Homo sapiens: one gene and its partners. The protein of the gene in region 1 purifies or fractionates together with the protein of each later gene. This does not show direct contact. Each region holds a gene or a part of one and is shown in the gene's direction. Other genes may lie near its edges.

Evidence for each region.
Region 2: the proteins of MRGPRX4 (region 1) and ATP1A3 purify together in Homo sapiens (affinity purification with mass spectrometry; one large-scale study listed by BioGRID and IntAct). This does not show direct contact.
Region 3: the proteins of MRGPRX4 (region 1) and SPG7 purify together in Homo sapiens (affinity purification with mass spectrometry; one large-scale study listed by BioGRID and IntAct). This does not show direct contact.
Region 4: the proteins of MRGPRX4 (region 1) and PTDSS2 purify together in Homo sapiens (affinity purification with mass spectrometry; one large-scale study listed by BioGRID and IntAct). This does not show direct contact.

Annotation. Positions count from the first base shown.
Region 1 is NC_000011.10:18,170,676-18,175,922, forward strand, and holds MRGPRX4 (mas-related G-protein coupled receptor member X4), read left to right. Parts: upstream 1-2,161; 5' UTR 2,162-2,581; coding exon 2,582-3,550; 3' UTR 3,551-3,605; downstream 3,606-5,247. UniProt on the Homo sapiens protein: Orphan receptor. Probably involved in the function of nociceptive neurons. May regulate nociceptor function and/or development, including the sensation or modulation of pain. Potently activated by enkephalins.
Region 2 is NC_000019.10:41,982,173-41,987,733, reverse strand, and holds part of ATP1A3 (sodium/potassium-transporting ATPase subunit alpha-3), read left to right. Parts: intron 1-1,504; coding exon 1,505-1,618; intron 1,619-1,735; coding exon 1,736-1,870; intron 1,871-2,310; coding exon 2,311-2,428; intron 2,429-2,547; coding exon 2,548-2,816; intron 2,817-5,561. UniProt on the Homo sapiens protein: This is the catalytic component of the active enzyme, which catalyzes the hydrolysis of ATP coupled with the exchange of sodium and potassium ions across the plasma membrane.
Region 3 is NC_000016.10:89,528,583-89,532,402, forward strand, and holds part of SPG7 (mitochondrial inner membrane m-AAA protease component paraplegin isoform 1 precursor), read left to right. Parts: intron 1-894; coding exon 895-997; intron 998-2,100; coding exon 2,101-2,226; intron 2,227-3,321; coding exon 3,322-3,484; intron 3,485-3,820. UniProt on the Homo sapiens protein: Catalytic component of the m-AAA protease, a protease that plays a key role in proteostasis of inner mitochondrial membrane proteins, and which is essential for axonal and neuron development.
Region 4 is NC_000011.10:466,272-471,832, forward strand, and holds part of PTDSS2 (phosphatidylserine synthase 2), read left to right. Parts: intron 1-5,561. UniProt on the Homo sapiens protein: Catalyzes a base-exchange reaction in which the polar head group of phosphatidylethanolamine (PE) or phosphatidylcholine (PC) is replaced by L-serine. Catalyzes the conversion of phosphatatidylethanolamine and does not act on phosphatidylcholine.

The DNA of each region.
Region 1 (5,247 bases):
GACTATCTTTGAAATCTGAAGTAGAAGCTCCAAGGCGTCACACATCAGAATTCCAAAAATTGGGGCTCCCAGTCCCTAGAGAGTTGCCCTCATCTTTGTGATCTTGCATGGTTTCCAGCTACATCAGCATTCCAGCCTTATGGAAAAGGACGAGGGGAAGGAGAGGCTTTACTCCTTCTATTGATCCTGTGAGCAAGGAATTGCTTACATCACTTTGTGATTCTTCCACTTAACAGCACCTGGTCATACAATGTCATCCAGCATCAAGGAAAACTGGGATGTGGGTCTTTGTGCTGCTTTTATACTCTCAGAATTGTTATGTGACCGAAGAGGAAAATGAATATTGGGGCAATCTAGCAGTCTCTTCAGCCCTGATTGTCTCTGACTCTGTGCTCACATCAAGATTTTTCAGGAACTCCTCAGAAATAATGAATGATGGGGCAGAGAACAGAACTGGAGCCTCATGCAGGGTTCCAGGGACCAGGGGCTGGTATTAGACTTGCTCTTCGTGTTGTGAACTCAGGAAAACCCTTTAATTCTCTATGCCTTGGCTTCATCTTATGTTATATGAGGATAATACCATAGATGGTCTTTAAGGAACACAGGCTAAATGTTGGTGATACTACAGGGAAAATGACAGGTATGACTTAGTCCTTATGGAGCTTTGGTTTTCATGAGGAAGACAAACATATCATACCATAAATATAGATAGAGAAACTCTTTAGTGCCCTGAGTGTGGATAACAGAGGCTCTCCTTTTCCTCCCATTTCCTTTCTGGGCCAATCAGGGCTGTGGCACCTTGCCCCTCTAAGAGAGCTCATGATGGATGCATTCACTCCTGATGCTTCTCTGTACTCCCAGCAAAGGGTGCATCTTCTGTCCACCAGGAGGCCTCCTGCCCCTGTGCATCCTCAGGATTCCAGAGCAAATGTGACCTCTGATAGGCAAAAAGGAACTCCTGAATTTATTCCTAAATGGCATTCACTCACCTCTATTTTGTTCCCTCTTTGATTTGCCTCTCCTTCTCTATGTGGAGTTTGCTTAGGTCAGTTTTTTTTTCAATCCACAATTTTGGCTGCCAACTTGGATTTAACTTGAGAATCACTCCTCTGCTTTACTCCCTGTAACATATATAATCGACACAGGGTGGTGCTGGGTATAAAGGGCTGCTCCAAGACTGGATTGTGAGTCAGACCTGCCGGACTCAAATTCATACTATGTAATACATAACCCCTGGGACAAATAATTCCCTTTCGTTGTGCTCCAATTGCATTATCTGCCATATGGGAATAATACCAATTCTTACCTCCTAGGCTCTTCGGGTGATTAAAAGAGACAATACCTTACAAACTCTCAATCAGCTGCTGTTATTCTCCCAGATTAGACCTAATCCTCATTCTCCAGTTGAAATCTGCATGAATCTCTCTCTTTACACTCCAAGCCCTACACATCGCCTATTTCCCCTCATGGACGCCTCTCATACAAATGTTTGCATCAACAAAGAAATGCTACCAAAGATCTCCTGAAAGAGAGAACCAAAAAGTTTACATTGTGTATACCCAGCAGAACACTTAGTAGTCCCCCATAGATATTTCCACACTTCAATTACCTCCGTCAGTTACACTCAGACCTCATCTTCACTTACTCTTTCCTCTGTTCTATTGCTGAGTAATTCAGCTCAGACCCACACCCTACCCAAACACTGTGTACAAAAATGCTTCTAGGTGTTCAGCAAAGCCACACTGAGTCTTCATTTCAAAGGCACATCAGTGGTCAATTTCAAGTTTTGGGCACACATCAAGAATTCTTCTCAACACAGATACAGCTTTCCACAAATAGAATTCTGATGAATTAAATTTTCTTCATCCAGTTATACGTGTGTGTTCTAATACCTTACATTGTGCTTTCATCTTTATTTTCCATTTCATCCAAATCTACCAGTACCATTAGTCTCATGCATGCATTCATTCATTGAATGAATGTATATGAAAAGCACAGTGTGCTGCTCATGGAAATAGGCACTGGGAGTATAAAATGTAAAATGTAGTCCTGTCTGCAATGACTGACACACTGAGTTATTTCTCACCCACCAGGCCCAGCCATTTTCACACTTATCCTAGCAAAGGTCACATTTTCCTCTAGTTCATAATGCATGGTCTTCCTTCCTGTCCATGGATGACCAGTCCTAGTCACGAGTGTGTCACAACCACCTCTTTGTGTATCTGAATTCCTCCACCTGAAAGAAAATTTCAGACCCAGGATAGATTAATCATCGGGTCCAAAGCCCTGGCCGGATGAGTGGGGGTGTTTTGATCCTAATGTTATTCCCATGTCAGCACAGAACTTGTGTGGCAGTAGAGAGATGTCAGGCTTCAGAGTCAACAAGAACTGGATTTCAAACTGGATTTGAGGACCCCCACCTTTGGTAAGTGACTTATTATCTGCGAGCCTCTGTTTCTCTCTTCTTTAAATGAGGACAGTAAATCCCATACGGCAGGGTGGTGGGGAGAATCAGAGATGATACAGCTGGTGATCACATCTGGTTTGTGTTCCCAGGGGCACCAGACTAGGGTTTCTGAGCATGGATCCAACCGTCCCAGTCTTCGGTACAAAACTGACACCAATCAACGGACGTGAGGAGACTCCTTGCTACAATCAGACCCTGAGCTTCACGGTGCTGACGTGCATCATTTCCCTTGTCGGACTGACAGGAAACGCGGTTGTGCTCTGGCTCCTGGGCTACCGCATGCGCAGGAACGCTGTCTCCATCTACATCCTCAACCTGGCCGCAGCAGACTTCCTCTTCCTCAGCTTCCAGATTATACGTTTGCCATTACGCCTCATCAATATCAGCCATCTCATCCGCAAAATCCTCGTTTCTGTGATGACCTTTCCCTACTTTACAGGCCTGAGTATGCTGAGCGCCATCAGCACCGAGCGCTGCCTGTCTGTTCTGTGGCCCATCTGGTACCGCTGCCGCCGCCCCACACACCTGTCAGCGGTCGTGTGTGTCCTGCTCTGGGGCCTGTCCCTGCTGTTTAGTATGCTGGAGTGGAGGTTCTGTGACTTCCTGTTTAGTGGTGCTGATTCTAGTTGGTGTGAAACGTCAGATTTCATCCCAGTCGCGTGGCTGATTTTTTTATGTGTGGTTCTCTGTGTTTCCAGCCTGGTCCTGCTGGTCAGGATCCTCTGTGGATCCCGGAAGATGCCGCTGACCAGGCTGTACGTGACCATCCTGCTCACAGTGCTGGTCTTCCTCCTCTGCGGCCTGCCCTTCGGCATTCTGGGGGCCCTAATTTACAGGATGCACCTGAATTTGGAAGTCTTATATTGTCATGTTTATCTGGTTTGCATGTCCCTGTCCTCTCTAAACAGTAGTGCCAACCCCATCATTTACTTCTTCGTGGGCTCCTTTAGGCAGCGTCAAAATAGGCAGAACCTGAAGCTGGTTCTCCAGAGGGCTCTGCAGGACAAGCCTGAGGTGGATAAAGGTGAAGGGCAGCTTCCTGAGGAAAGCCTGGAGCTGTCGGGAAGCAGATTGGGGCCATGAGGGAGAGCCTCTGCCCTGTCAGTCAGACGGGACTTTGAGAGCAACACTGTCCTGCCACCCTTGACAATTACATGCGTTTTTCTTAGCGTTTCGCCTCAGAAATGTCTCAGTGGTAACTCAAGGTCTTCAAATAAATGTTTATCTAACCTGACAGTTGCAGTTTTCACCCATGGAAAGCATTAGTCTGACAGTACAATGTTTGGATTCTCCTTGATATTACCAATACATTTTCCCTGTTATCTTGCACTGAATCTTTCCTACTGAACACTTTTTCTGCACTTTTCATTGTAATAAAAGGAGTTCCTGTCCACAACCCTAAAACTCTTCTTTATACTTGTTTCCTACCTGATAGTATCAAAAAGGAAGATTCCTTATTAATCTGTCAGACTATGTTCCCCTGAAAATCATGTTCCCTTCTATGACTGGAGGCATTACTGCAGTTGGAAGCTCAATTCTTAATAAGTGAGTTCTGCTACCTCTAAATTCCATTGAATTCTCAGATATAAAGCAAAATAATGTCCTTAGAGAGAGATTCTCCCTTCATAAAAACAGTCTTAGAAATTGGTTTTATGAATAGCCCTCTCCTGTCATTTGTCCACACATGGTCACACGTTGGCTTTGGTTTCTAGTAAAGACAATCGTGGCCCCTTCCCCTTGAGAACTGGTAAGTGCTTATTTAGCTCTTCCTGGACTAACGGACCAGTGAGGAGCCTATAAATACACCCCACCAGTTCCATTTTGGCCATTGGAAATTAAAATTGGTTTCAAACTGGAAATTATCTTGAAAACCATTTATTATTCATTTACAGAGTCTTTAAGTTGTAGGAGAATTCTTCATACTTTCAGGTTTTGTACAAATTGTTCTGGCTGTAACTTTCAGTTAATTTTATGGCTGTTAACATAAGAAGCAAAACTGAAAACATCTGACTTTTCCATGCTAATGTCAATTATAGTATCCGGATAATAACTTACAGTTGGTACAAAATTCTGATACATGCTGTGACTTAGATGAACACGGAAACATTGTGCTAAGGAAAATATGCCAGATACCAAAGAACAATATTGTATGGTCAAATTCTACGAGGTATCCAAACTAGGAAATTCGTGAACACAGAAAATAAATTAGAAGGATCCTGGTGCTGGATGATGGAGAGAATGTGTAGCCATTATTTAATGAGCACAGACTTTCTGTGTGGAATAATGCAAAGTTCTTAAAAGGGACAGTGGTAACGGTTACGACTTATTGTGAATGCACTTAATGACATTGAATTGTACAAATAAAATGGTGAAAGTTGTAAAATGTATGTTATGTGCATTTTACCACAATTAAAAACATTTAATTATAAAAACAGGATCAGTACAAAATTCAGGACTATTCTCCACCAGTGGTTATCCCTTCAACAGATAGCTCAAGCAGACAGAAGAGACCACCAAGAGAAGATGTGACATCACAGCAGGGTCTGTGCTGATCATAGACAGTGAGGCTGCCCCTCAGATTAACCCTCACTGAGGGGAGCTGACACATGCATTTTGAGTATACAGGAGACAGTACAAAGTAGCTATGAAAGCAATAAAGAGGTCTATAACAATAAACAGGTGTATAGTTTTCAATTTGTCCAACCAAATTTATTCGTGGCTCGTATCACATTGTTCACAATGTTGAACTCAGGTCCCCTGAGTGCAGATCCATTGCTCTT
Region 2 (5,561 bases), on another chromosome or scaffold:
CCACAGCAGGATGTGTGAGCCGGGGCTCTGTCCCAAGGCTGTGTGACCTCAGCGGCCTTGAGAACAGACACCAGCAGGTGGTCATGGCTTGACAGATACCCAGAGTGAGTGTCACATAGAGACCCAGGCACACCCCGCTGCTGATACATCAGGGCCCATCCCCATAACACAGGGACACATTCGAGATGCAGCCTCAGATCCCATGCGCATAACACAGACCACACACCAGCCACACAGAGCTGCTCACCTGGGTAGGCGTGTGTGCACACACACGCATGTGCACGGAGGGTCAACGCAGATGCCACACCAGGATGTGGTTTCAAACATGGCCACCTAATTCAGAAACACAGACACAGACTCAGATATACACTGACAGAGAAACTCACACACACACTGACACGCACACACACACACAGCAATGCAGGCATAACCTGGTGACAGAGAGACATGAGAGTCAGGCACAGAGAGTGTCCTCAGATGTTCAAATCTAAACAGTCTTAGACATAAGCTCTCACAGAGAGGCAGAGCTGGAGACACAGAGACAGAGATCCACACACAGAGAACCAAAGAAGCTGCCTTGTAGAATGTAAAGTCAGGCATGCAGCCAGTCAGACAGACACATGGACAGACAGCCGCATCCCAGACTCAACATGTGCAGGAGGACAGACACACACACAAAACAGATGGACAAGTCGGGCATGGTGGCTCACGCCTGTCATCCCAGCACCTTGGGAGGCCAAGGCAGGAGGGTAACTTGAGACCAGGAGTTCCAGTAGCCTGAGTAACATACCCAGACAGACCCAGCCTCTAAAAAAACACAAAACATAGCCGGGCCTGGTGGCGCACACCTGTAGTCCTAGCTACTCCGGAGGCTGAGGAGGGAGGATTGCTTGAATCTGGGAGGTTGAGGCTACAGTGAACTGAGATTGTGCCACTGTACTCCATCCTAGGCAGCAGAGCGAGACCCTGTCTCAAAAAAAAAAAAAAAAAAAAATGCCAGGAAAGATGGCTCACACCTGTAATCCCAGCACTTTGGGAGGCCAAGGTGATAGATCACAAGGTCAGGAGATCAAGACCATCCTAGCCAACATGGTGAAGCCCCATCTCTACTAAAAATACACAAAATTAGCCAGGTGTGGTGGCATGCACCTGTAGTCCCAGCTACTCAGGAGGCTGAGGCAGGAGGATCGCTTGAACCAGGAGGCGGAGATTGCAGTGAGCCAAGATCATGCCATTGCACTCCAGCCTGGGCGACAGAGTGAGACTCTGTCTCAAAAAAAAAATCGACAGACCCTTAGATTCAAACACAACCATTACAGAAAGAGGGACTCAAGCACAAACAGGGGAGACTCAGACACACCAACCCTCATAACCAACCTAGGGTCAGACACACAAATACAGACCCCCACTGACACAAAGCTCCCTTCCCAGACTCCAGGCGAGCAGGGACTGGTGGAGAGTGGCTTGGGCGGCCCCTGATCAACATCCCCACATCTCCCCACAGCTGTACCTGGGCATCGTGCTGGCGGCCGTGGTGATCATCACTGGCTGCTTCTCCTACTACCAGGAGGCCAAGAGCTCCAAGATCATGGAGTCCTTCAAGAACATGGTGCCCCAGGTGAAGGGTGCCCAGCAAGGGGCCAGACGGGGGTGTTAGTGTATGGGCTGGGGGCCGGGCCCAGTGACCCCCAGGCAGAGGGAGTCTGGGAGGTGACATTACTCCATCCCACCTCAGCAAGCCCTGGTGATCCGGGAAGGTGAGAAGATGCAGGTGAACGCTGAGGAGGTGGTGGTCGGGGACCTGGTGGAGATCAAGGGTGGAGACCGAGTGCCAGCTGACCTGCGGATCATCTCAGCCCACGGCTGCAAGGTGGGCCTGGGCCTAGGGCCCGGCTTTACCCTCCCTCGGGCTGCCCAGGAGCTCAGGCCCAGCCCCTCCTCCCTCACACTCAGGAGTCCAGGTCCCAACCCCTCCTCCCTCAGACCCAGGAGTCCAGGCCCCCAGGCCCTCCTCCCTCAGACCCAGGAGTTTAGGCCCTGGGCCACCTCCTCACCCAACAGTCAGGAGTCCAGGCCCAGCCCTCACCTTTCGGAGATCCTTAGGGACCCTAGACCTTGGCCAGCAGCACTGTGCCTTCCCCACCTTCAAGATCCCAGCCTCTGGCCTCCCACACACCACTCACCCACTGGGCACCCAGGCTTCTAGCTGTGATCTCCAGGCACACAGGCTTCAGCCCCAAGCCCTGTACACAAATACCCTCCTGTCCCAGGCCCTGGACTGAACCCTCTCTCTGCTGCACCTACCCCCAGGTGGACAACTCCTCCCTGACTGGCGAATCCGAGCCCCAGACTCGCTCTCCCGACTGCACTCACGACAACCCCTTGGAGACTCGGAACATCACCTTCTTTTCCACCAACTGTGTGGAAGGTGAGGCGGGTGCAGAGAAGACACACAGCTGGGGCAGACACAGGGATGTGTCCCAGGGGGTCAGGCCTCCAGAACCTCCCTGAGCCACCCCACCTCAGCCTAACCCCTCTGGCCTGCAGGCACGGCTCGGGGCGTGGTGGTGGCCACGGGCGACCGCACTGTCATGGGCCGTATCGCCACCCTGGCATCAGGGCTGGAGGTGGGCAAGACGCCCATCGCCATCGAGATTGAGCACTTCATCCAGCTCATCACCGGCGTGGCTGTCTTCCTGGGTGTCTCCTTCTTCATCCTCTCCCTCATTCTCGGATACACCTGGCTTGAGGCTGTCATCTTCCTCATCGGCATCATCGTGGCCAATGTCCCAGAGGGTCTGCTGGCCACTGTCACTGTAAGGCCAGGCTCCTGGGTCTGGGTGGGGAGGGCCTGGGGGTCTGGGCTCCTGGGTCTGAGGGAGGAGGGGCTGGGATCCTGGACCCCTGAGTCTGAGGGAGGAGGGGCTAGAGGCCTGGACCCGTGTGTCTGGGGGAGGAGGGGCTGGGATCTGGACCCCTGGGTCCGGAGAAGGGGCTGGGGGCCTGGATCACAGTATTCTTGTGAAAGACAACTTGGGCCTGACTCAGAGGGCCTCATTAACAAAGCAAACAATCAAAGAAAGAAACAAACAAAAATCTTGAGAAACACTGGCAAGCCGTAAAGAGCCAACAATCCTATTGCAAAATTAAGAAGTGCACGCTCATGATGAAAAGTTGAAGAGTACATCAAGTTAAAAAATAAAATAATGAGGCTGGGTGCACTGGCTCACGCTGTAATCCCAGCACTTTGGGGGGCCAAGGCGGGCAGATCAGCTGAGGTCAGGAGTTCAAGACTAGCCTGGCCAACATGGTGAAACCCTGTCTCTACTGAAAATACAAAATTAGTGGGGCGTGGTGGCACATGCCTGTAATCCCAGCTACTCAGGAGGCTGAGGCAGGAGAATCGCTTGAACCTGGGAGGCGGAGGTTGCAGTGAGCCAAGATCACGCCATTGCACTCCAGCCTGGGTGACAAGAGTGAAACTCCATCTCAAAAATAAATAAATAAATAAATAAAATAAAATAATAAGCCTGGCGCAGTGGCTCACGCCTTTAATCCCAACAGTTTGGGAGGCTGAGGCAGGAGGACTGCTTGAGGTCAGGAGTTTGAGACAAGCCTGGACAACATAGTAAGAACCCATCTCTACCAAAAAATGTGAAGGCTGGGCGCAGTGGCTCATGCCTGTAGTCCCAAGACTTTGGGAGGCCGAGGCGGGTGGATCACCTGAGGTCAGGAGTTCGAGACCAGACTGGCCAACATGGCAAAACCCCATCTCTACTAAAAGTATAAAAATTAGCCAGGCGTGGTGATGGGTGCCTGGAATCCCAGCTACTCAGGAGGCTGAGACAGGAGAATAGCTTGAGCCTAGGAGGCAGAGCTTGCAGTGAGCCGAGATCGTGCCACCTCACTCCAGCCTGGGCGACAAAAGCGAGATTCTGTCTCAAAAAAAAAAAAAAAAAAAAAAAAATTTTTTTAAATTAGCCAGGCGTGGTGGTACATGTCTGTAGTTCCAGCTATTTGGGAGGCTGACCCGGGAGGTTGAGGCTGTAGTGGGCCATGATTGAACCACTGCACTCTAGCCTGTGTGACAGAGGGAGACTCCATCTCAAGAAAATAATAATAATAATAATTATTATAATAATAATAATTATTATTATTATTTTTAAAAATTTTTTCTCTGGCTGCTTTGCTGCCAGCTTCACCCCAGAAGTCCATTCTCTGTGAGGTTCCGCCTGACAGCTGTGAGCATATTGACTAAATGCTGTCTTCAAGGTGCATGGCAGGGACTATCTTAGAAATACCATTCTCCTCTTTCATTCTTTGACTTAATGTTTTATGTGAAGTTTTCCATATTAGGGCCGGGCAGGGTGGCTCACGCCTGTAATCCCAGCACTTTGGGAATCCGAGGTGGGTGGATCACTTGAGGTCAGGAGTTCAAGACCAGCCTGGCCAACATGGCAAAACCCCATCTCTACTAAAAATACAAAAATTAGCCAGGCGTGATGGTGGGCGCCTGTAATCCCAGCTACTTGGGAGGCTGAGGCACAAGAATTGCTTGAACCTGGGAGGTGGAGGTTGCAGTGAGCTGAGATCGAGCCACTGCACTCCAGCCTGGACGACAGAGCAAGACTGTGTCTCAAAAAAAAAAAAAGTTTACTGTTTTCCATATTAGCAATGTTGAATGCTACCCTATGTCAAATGGATTTTTATACGCAAAGGATTAAGCATATTGTGAGCACATAGTCTGATGATTTGGGGCAAACTGAACAGAATCACGTCAGCTGCAACGAGACTGCGTCTCCCTGAAGCCCCCTCAAGACCTTATTTAGCCCCTGCCCCCCAACCCAAGGGTAACCCCTGATCTGGCTGCTAACAGCATAGATTAACTTTGCCTGTGTTCAAACTTCCTATTAACGGAATAATTCAGTATGAACTCATTTCTGGCTCTTTTTGGCTGAACATGTTTTTGACGTTCACCCATGCAGGTGCAGGCAGCAGTAATGTATTTGTTTTTATCAATGTTAGTATTCCATTGTCCACAATTTATCTTTTCTGCTGTTAGTGGACATTTGAGTAGTTTGCAGTTTTGGACAATTTTTTTTTTTTTTGAGTTGGAGTCTCACTCTGTTGCCCAGGCTGGAGTGCAGTGTCACGATTTCGGATCACTGCAACCTCCACCTCCTGGGTTCAAGGGGTTCTCGTGCCTCAGCTTCCCAAGTAGCTGGGATGACAGGAGTGTACCATCATGCCCTGCTAATTTCTGTATTTTTAGTAGGGATGGGGTTTCACCATGTTAGCCAGGCTGGTCTCGAACTCCTGATCTCAAGTGATGCGCCTACCTCGGCCTCCCAAAGTGCTGGGATTACAGGCGTGAGCCACTGCACCTGGCTGTTTTGCACTATTATGCATGTGGCTGCTATGAGCATTCTAGTCCCTGTCTTTGGGTGTCTCTGCCCTGTTTCTATTGGTCTGAATTGGGGGTGGCATTGCTGGGTGCTGCCTCATTCTTTTCCAGGCCCTCAGGATTCTCTGGGGGCTGGGCAGCTGGGCTGTGGCCCTCG
Region 3 (3,820 bases), on another chromosome or scaffold:
GGCAAAAGTCCTGGGATTTGCTTTTTTTTTTTTTTTTTTTTGGAGTCAGGGTCTCACTCTGTCGCCCAGGCTGGAGTGCAGTGGTGCAATCTCAGCTTACTGCAGCCTCGACCTCCCAGGATCAGTGATTCTCCCACCTCAGCCTCCTGAGTAGCTGGGACTACAGATGCACACCACCACATCCAGCTAAGTTTTTTTGTATTTTTAGTAGACACAGGGTTTATTCTTACATTTTTCTTTTCTTTTTGAGATGGAGTCTTGCTCTGTAGCTCAGGCTGGAGTTCAGTGGCACGATCTTGACTCACTGCAGCCTTCACCTCCTAGGTTCAAGCATTTCTCCTGCCTCAGCCTCCCAAGTAGCTGGGATTGCAGACGCATGCCACCATGTCCAGCTAATTTTTGTATTTTTTTAGTAGATATGGGGTTTTACCATGTTGGCCAGGCTGGTCTCAAACTCCTGACCTTGTGATTCACCCGCCACGGCCTCCCAAAGTGCTAGGATTACAGGCGTGAGCCACCGCGCCCGGCCTGAGATTTGCTTTTTACTCTTAGGCTGATCTTGCCTGCCTGATTGAAGCTGATCGCTTACATTTGAAAACAAAATATACTGAAAATAGAAAAACCTGAACGTTGTTATTGTCACAAGGCTGGCTAGATCTCCGGCATCTGCACACTCAGTCTGACCATTTGGGAAGCTTTCATGAAAAAGCACAGTCAGCGAGAATGAGACGAGAGAACCCATTTCCACAACCATTTTAATCTGCGCATCGGTCCCAGACGTAGGGATTCCTCGTCTCATCTTGGAAACATTGCCAGCAGTGGTTCTGATTTGGAAGCCTGCGTCTGTCACGTGACACCGTCTGAGCCTGTGCCTGCCTCTCTTTCTTCCGGCAGTGCCCTGTACTCTGTGGGGATGACGGCAGTGGGCCTGGCCATCCTGTGGTATGTTTTCCGTCTGGCCGGGATGACTGGAAGGGAAGGTGGATTCAGTGCTTTTGTAAGTTCTGTAAATCAGAGCTCTCTGAACTCTTTCTGGTTTGTGTTTGCTGAATACTTTTCCCATAAGCTATACGATGAATACACAGGGAAAACCTGTTGCAGAGAGTAGCCTGAAGCCACAATTAGACAGCAGCTCACCTTCCTTTCCCATGGTCCGGCTGTAAGGCGTGTAGTAACCAATGTTGCCTGAGGGCCTCTCACCCCTAACTCTGGGGTGCCTGAGCCTTGTGAGATTACAGGGCAGTTGAATCTGCGTTTTTCTTTTCTTTTTTTTTGAGACGGAGTTTCGCCCTTCTTGCCCAGGCTGGAGTGCAGCCGTGCGATCTCAGCTCACCGCAACTTGCACCTCCCGCATTCAAGCAATTCTCCTGCCTCAGCTTCCCGAGTAGCTGGGATTACAGGCACGCGCCACCACGTCCAGCTAATTTTGTATTTTTGGTAGAGACGGGGTTTCTCCATGTTGTTCAGGCTGGTCTCGAACTCCCGACCTCAGGTGATCCTCCCGCCTCAGCCTCCCAAAGTGCTGGGATTATAGGCATGAGCCACTGCACCTGGCCTTTCTTTTTTGTGTGTGTGTGTGTGTGACAGAGTCTGGCTCTGTTGCCCAGGCTGGAGTGCAGTGGTGCGATCTCAGCTCACTGCAACCTCTGCCTCCTGGGTTCAAGCGATTCTCCTGCTTCAGCCTTCCAAGTAGCTGTGACTACAGGTGCCTGCCACCACACCCAGCTAATTTTTTTGTATTTTTGGTAGAGACAGGTTTCACCGTGTTAGCCAGGGTGGTCTCGATCTCTTGACCTCGTGATCCGCCCATCTCGGCCTCCCAAAGTGCTAGGATTACAGGCGTGAGCCACCATGCCTGGCTGAGTAATTTTTTTTAAAGCAAATTGCTAGATAAGTTTCTTACTAATTAATGACGAAACATTTCCCTTCTGTGCTTGAAGACTGACTGTGAGCCTCGTCAGCCTGACATGAGTGAAGCCTTGGGATCCTAGGATGGAGACGTGGGGTTGGGGCGGCTCAGGTGCGTGGGCTGAGCGCTGGCATCGTGCTGCTGATTTCCTGACTTCGCCCAGCTCCTTGCACTTTGTTCTTTCTGCACAGAATCAGCTTAAAATGGCTCGTTTCACCATTGTGGATGGGAAGATGGGGAAAGGAGTCAGCTTCAAAGACGTGGCAGGAATGCACGAAGCCAAACTGGAAGTCCGCGAGTTTGTGGATTATCTGAAGGTGAAAGCAGCGTGGGCCGGGAGGGAGGTGTGAGCAGAGGCCGGCCGTCCTCCTCTCCCAGAAGGGCTCCTGCGGGACCTGGAATTCCATCGATGACGTGTCGTGGGTTGGCGGTGACCTCTACCATGTCCCATGGGGACACCAAGCAGGTGCTGGTGCCTGTTCAACCAGCAGCACAAGCCTCGTGCACATGGTTCAGCCAAGCAGAGGCTGCCAAGACCCATGCCTACTGTGCCGTTAGCCGTCCTGGGCCCTTCATCCCTTGCAAAGCTCTGTGCTTTTTCCAGAACCACATAAACACCTTAGCCAGTTGGTGGCAGTGCATGAGCTGCCTATCACGTGCGTCACTTACACGTTTCCTCCGCGGGCCTGGTACGGTGGGTCGCACCTGTAGTCCTGGCACCTCGAGGGGCTGACATGTGTTCCCTCTGCAGGCCTGGTACAGTGGGTCACGCCTGTAGTCCTGGCACCTCGGGGCGCTGAGGCAGGGGAGTGACTGAGCCCAGGAGTAGGAGATCAGCCTGGGCAACAGTGAGACCCTGTCTCTGCAAAACATTTTTTTATTTAATTAATTTTTTTTTTCGAGACAGAGTCTCACTTTGTCACTCAGGCTGGAGTGCAGTGGCACAATCTCGGCTCACTACAACCTCCACCTCCCCAGTTCAAGTGATTCTCCTGCCTCAGCCTCCCGAGTAGCAGGGATCACAGGCGCCCACCACCATGCACGGCTAATTTTTGTATTTTTAGTAGAGACGGGGTTTTTCCATGTTGGCCAGGCTGGTCTCAAACTCCTGATCTCAAGCTACGCGCCTGCCTCAGCCTCCCAAAATGTTGGAATTCCAGGTGTGAGCCACCGCACCTGGCCTGCAAGAAGTTTTTAAAAGTAGCTGGGCGTGGTGCCACATGCCTGTATATTCCCAGCTACTCGAGAGGCTGAGGTGAGAGGGTGGCTTGAACCCAGGAGTTTGAGGCTGCAGTGAGCTATCATGGCACCCACTGCACTCCAGCCTGCGTGACCCAGAGAGACCTTACCTCTAAAAAACAAAAAAACGGAATCCCCAAGTAGTTAGTGTTGCATTGTCTGCTGCCGTCCAGAGCCCAGAACGCTTCCTCCAGCTTGGCGCCAAGGTCCCAAAGGGCGCACTGCTGCTCGGCCCCCCCGGCTGTGGGAAGACGCTGCTGGCCAAGGCGGTGGCCACGGAGGCTCAGGTGCCCTTCCTGGCGATGGCCGGCCCAGAGTTCGTGGAGGTCATTGGAGGTAGGTGCTGTGGTTGGGGGCTGTGGGTGGGCTTGGCTGACTACCTGGCTCCTTTCACACATCCTTCCTCTGGTGTCTGGACTGAAAGGGACACGGGTGGGTGGGGGAGTAGAGAAGGAAAGCGAGGTCTGGGTTGGCGGAGGGGTTTTGTCTGCGAAGCACATGATGTTTGCTTCAAAGCCACCGTCACTTGTGGCCTGGGGGGCCAGCACGGTGCGTGTGAACCCTGAGGGGTGGCCAGGGGCCCCCGCGAGCAGCTGCCGTGTGTCTGTTTGTAGGGAATGGAGCTGGTAGCTTTAGTTGTCCTTGGTGTAGAACTTTGTCTGGCCCGGGTAC
Region 4 (5,561 bases), about 18 Mb from region 1:
CACAGTTCCGAATTGCTGGGGAGGCCTCAGGAAACGTACAATCACTGTGGAAGGCAAAAGGGGAAGCAGGCACCTTCCTCACAAAGGCGGCAGGAGAGACTGAGAACGGGCACAGGAAAAACTGCCACTCTTTTTTTTTTTTTTTTTTTTTTGAGACAGAGTATTGCTCTGTTGCCCAGGCTGGAGTGCAGTGGCATGATCTTGGGGCTCACTGCAACCTCCGCTTCCTGGGTTCAAGCGATTCTCCTGCTTCAGCCTCCCGAGTAGCTGGGACTACAGGCATGCGCCACCTCGCCTGGCTAATTTTTGTATTTTTTAATAGAGACGAGGTTTCACCATGTTGGCCAGGTTGGTCTGAAACTCCTGGCCTCAAGTGATCCGCCCACCTCGGCCTCCCAAAGTGCTGAGATTACAGGTGTGAGCCACCGCGCACGGCCAAAACTGCCGCTTCTAAAACCATCAGCTCTCGTGAGACTCCCTCACTACATGAGAACAGCATGGGGGAACCGCCCCCATAACCCAGTCACTTCCCTCCCTCCACACGTGGGGATTACAATTCAAGATGAGATTTGGGTGGGGACACAGCGAAACCGTGTCACATGGCAAAACCCCGTCTCTACAAAAAATACAAAAATTAGCCAGGCGTGGTGGTGCACACCTGCAGTTCCAGCTACTCAGGAGTCTGAGGTGGGAGGATCCCTTGAGCCCGGGAGGTCAAGGCTGCAGTGAGCCAAGATCACACCACTGCACTCCAGCCTAGGCAACAGAGCAAGACCCTCTCTTTCAAACACAAACCTGGGTGACACCCACTCGGAAGGCTAAGGCAGGAGAATCACTTGAACCCAGGAGGCAGAGGTTGCAGTGAGCCGAGATGGGGCCACTGCACTCCAGCCTGGGTGACAAAGGCAAAACTTTGTCTCAAAACAAAGCAAAACCTGGGTGAAAGGTCTAAGCAGATGTTCACCAGGGAAGTTATTCAGACGGGAGATTGCGGTGGGAGGATACCCAGCATCATTTGTCCTTCAGGAACTGGAAACAGGGAGACGCCACTGCATACCCGACGGAGCAGCTAAAACCTTAAAAACCGACAGTACCAACGCTTCCAGGAACTCTCACCCATTGCTGGTGGGAATACAAAAGGCTAAAGCCGCTTTAGAAGACAGTTTCACAGACTCTCACAGAACTAAATATAAATATATTCTTGGGCTGGACGTGGTGGTTCACGCCTGTCATCCCAGCACTTTGGGAGGCTGAGGCAGGTGGATCACGAGGTCAGGAGATCAAGACAAGCCTAGCCAACATAGTGAAACCCCGTCTCTACTAAAAATGCAAAAAATTAGCCTGGCATGGTGGCAGGCACCTATAATCCCAGCTACTCGGGAGGCCAGGAGGCGGAGGTTGCAGTGAGCCGAGATCGCAACATTGCACTCCAGCCCGGGCAACAGTGCGAGACTCTGTCTCAAAAAATATAGATATAGATATAGATAGATAGATAGATTCTTACCATGCAATCTAGCAGTTTTGCTCCTGAATATTTATCCAACTGAATTGAAAACTTATGTCCACATAAAAACCTGCATGCAGGCCAGGCATGGTGGCTCACGCTTATAATCCCAGCAGTTTGGGAGGCTGAGGCAGGAGGATCGCTTGAGCCCAGGAGTTCAAGACCAGCCTGGGCAACATACTGAGACCCCATCTCTACCAAACTAAAAAACTTAGCCGAGTGTCACAGCACACACACATGGTCCCACCTGTCAAGAGGCTGAGTGGGATCTCAAGCCCGGAAGGCAGAGGTTGCAGCGAGCTGTGATTGAGCCACTGCACTGCAGCCTGGGCAACAGGGTGAGACCCCATCTCTAAAAGATAGTAATGAGCATTAAGCCACTGCGACCGGGAGGAACCTTAAATACATGTTTCTATAAATACACATTCCTAAGTGAGAGGAGCCAGTTGAGAAGGCCGCGCACTGTGATTTCAGCTCGATGACCTTCTGGAAGAGGCAATATGATGTGGTAGTGAAAACATCAGTTGTTTCCCGGGGAAAGGGGAGAGTGGATAGTAGAATGCAGCATTCGTATGGCAGTGAGGCCACTCTGTGTGGCACCATCCTGGTTGGTACATGACACTGCGTTTGTCCGAACCTGTAGAACTGGACAACACGAGCAGACCGTGTGCAGATTTTAAACATTCATTGAGGAGATGGGGGTCCCGGCGGGGAAGGCCGACTGACAAGAATCTTAACTACTGCAGATGCATTCCGTGACCTTCCTGAAGGGTGTTCAGAGGAAGGTGCTGAGTAACTTTGGAAATGAGCAGTGTCTATAAGGCCAGAGGCAAAAGGAATGGCACAGACGCTGCTCTAGTCGATAAAGTTTTGCTGCACAGAGGTGCTGACTGGCAGCTCTGTCACTGTGGTGTGTATGATGGCTGTGGGAGGGGAGTCTCTGGATAATCAGAGAAGGAGGGGAGTCTCTGGGTAATCAGAGGGAGGAGGAGGGGAGTCTCTGGGTAATTGGAGGAGGGGAGTCTCTGGGTAATCGGAGGAGGGGAGTCTGGGTAATCGGAGGAGGGGAGTCTCTGAGATGGAGGGGAGTCTCTGAATAATTGGAGAAGGAGGGGAGTCTCTGGGTAATCGGAGGGAGGAGGGGAGTCTCTGGGTAATCGGAGAAAGAGGGGAGTCTCTGGGTAATCGGAGGGAGGAGGAGGGGAGTCTCTGGGTAATCGGAAGGAGGAGGAGGGGAGTCTCTGGGTAATCGGAAGGAGGAGGAGGGCAGTCTCTGGGTAATCAGAGGGAGGAGGAGGGGAGTCTCTGGGTAATCGGAGGGAGGAGGAGGGGAGTCTCTGGGTAATCGGAAGGAGGAGGAGGGGAGTCTCTGGGTAATTGGAAGGAGGAGGAGGGCAGTCTCTGGGTAATCAGAGGGAGGAGGAGGGGAGTCTCTGGGTAATCGGAAGGAGGAGGAGAGGAGTCTCTGGGTAATCGGAAGGAGGAGGAGGGCAGTCTCTGGGTAATCGGAGGGAGGAGGAGGGGAGTCTCTGGGTAATCGGAGGGAGGAGGAGGGCAGTCTCTGGGTAATCGGAGGGAGGAGGAGGGGAGTCTCTGGGTAATCGGAGGGAGGAGGAGGGGAGTCTCCGGGGGAGTCTCTGGGTACTCGGAGGAGGAGGGCAGTCTCTGGGTAATCGGAGGGAGGAGGAGGGCAGTCTCTGGGTAATCGGAGGGAGGAGGAGGGGAGTCTCTGGGTAATCGGAGGGAGGAGGAGGGGAGTCTCCGGGTAATCAGAGGGACGAGGTTGGAGTGGCCGCTGTGATGGTGGATTACCATTGCACGTTTAGCCCAGAAGAGACAAAGATGGTTAAACAGTGTGTGCGCAGTGGTTAATGGATACACACAGATCTTGTTGCTGTACAAGCTGAGGGGGCCTAGAACCAGCTATGCTTGCAGCAGTGAGCACACCCAGGCCCAGATCCTGGTTCCTAGTGCCCTCCAGTCCACGGGGCCAGGGCTCTGAGGAGAAATGGCTGATTCCAGCACCGGGGCAGGAAATGCCCAGGATCAGCTGATCCTGGCAGTTCCAGAAAGTGAGGAGCTCTGTAAACAAAACCCCACAGTCACGGGATTGCGTCCCAGTGAAAGAGCCTCCCAGTGGCCAAAGAGCAACAAAATAATAAAGTAGTATTAGAATATAACCCAGAGTAGAAAATAAACATCCACGAGCCCATAGTGATATAAGTGATTGAGTAAATAAACAGAGGGAACAAGACCAACCTTCCCTGCAGAAGGTTTTCAGTAAATGAGGTAGATCCCCCCATTCCAGGAGCTGGCGTGAGCTCCCGGCACCGCTGTGCGCTGCGCGTGGTGACCTGACCTCCTTCCTGGGCGTGCAGCACGGAGAGGGCAGTGGGAGGAGGACGCTGCAGCCGAGGTGCCCGCAGACACCCCCAAGCCCAGTGGTCAGGTCAGCATGCACTGGTCATGTTCATGGCGTGGCCGACGGGGAGGCTGCTGCCCCATCCTCCCAACCCCGACGACCCCAGCCCGGCCATGCAGAGGCATAGTCGACCATCTCACTAAGGAACATTCCACAGAATTCCTGACCAGGCCTCCTCCAAACCATCCAGGTCATCAGAGACAAGGAGAGTCTGAGAAACCGTCCCAGCCTCGGGGAGCCTGAAGAGACAGAACGAGTAGATGCCATGTGGCTTCCAGGAAGAGATTGTTGGGGGCGGGGCAGGGGGAAGGACATCAGGGGAGAGCGAAGGAAGTGTAGGCCTCAGCAGCTGTGTGGCAGCACTGGCTTATTTATTTTTTATTTTTTATGTTTATTTTATTTTATTTTTTGAGACAGAGTATCACTGTGTCACCCAGGCTGGAGTGTAGTGGCGTGATCTCGGCTCACTGCAACCTCCGCCTCTCGGGTTCAAGTGATTCTCCTGCCTCAGCCTCCCGAGTAGCTGGGATTACAGGTGCCTGCCACCACATCTGGCTAATTTGTGTATTTTTAGTAGAGATGGGGTTTCACCATGTTGGTCAGGCTGGTCTCGAACTCCTGACCTTGTGATCCGCCTGCCTCAGCCTCCCAAAGTGCTGGGATTACAGGCGTGAGCCACCGCACCCAGCCAGCACCGGCTTATTAATGGTGAGATGTTAATGGGAAAACTGGGCCTGTGAGATATGGGAGCTTTTACTATTTTTACAATAATTCTGTAAATCTAAAACCATTCTAAAATTAAAAATTTATTTTTAAAATGCAATATATTTGTTTTCCTTTTAAAGCACTTCCCTCATTCTTACCCAACGGGACACACCTTCTCAAGTACTTAAGTAATTCTTTTTTTTTTTTTTTTTTGAGACTGAGTCTTGCTGTCACCCAGGCTGGAGTGCAGTGGCGCGATCTCAGCTCACTGCAACCTCTACCTCCCAGATTCAAGTGATTCTCCTACTTCAGCCTCCCGAGTAGCTGGGATTACAGGCGTCTGCCACCACACCTGGCTAATTTCTTATATTTTTAGTAGAGACAGGAGTTTCATGTCGGCCAGGCTGGTCTCGAACTCCTGACCTTTAATGATCCACCTACCTCAGCCTCCCAAAGTGCTAAGATTACAGGTGTGAACCACTGTGCCCGGCAAGTAATTCTTATGAACAAATTAGCCTTATAAAGTTGTCATAAACATTATGTGATGTGTGGCCAGGTTAGAGTCCTGTGTGACCCGGTCTGAGCTGGCCTCTGGGCAGCATGCCGTGTGGGGGCTGCCACAAGCTGATTCAGGGAGCACCGGCCTGGGGTGACGCACGCCTGTCGGGCGGAGGGCGGCCTGGGGTGACACGGATGGTGGCCTGGGATGACACGCGCCTGTCAGGCGGAGGGCGGCCTGGGGTGACACGCACCTGTCTGGTGGATGGCGGCCTGGGGTGACGCGCGCCTGTCGGGCGGATGGTGGCCTGGGGTGACGTGGATGGCGGCCTGGGGTGACGCAGATGGTGGCCTGGGGTGACGCGGATGGCGGCCTGGGGTGACGCAGATGGTGGCCTGGGGTGACGTGGATGGCGGCCTGGGGTGACGCGG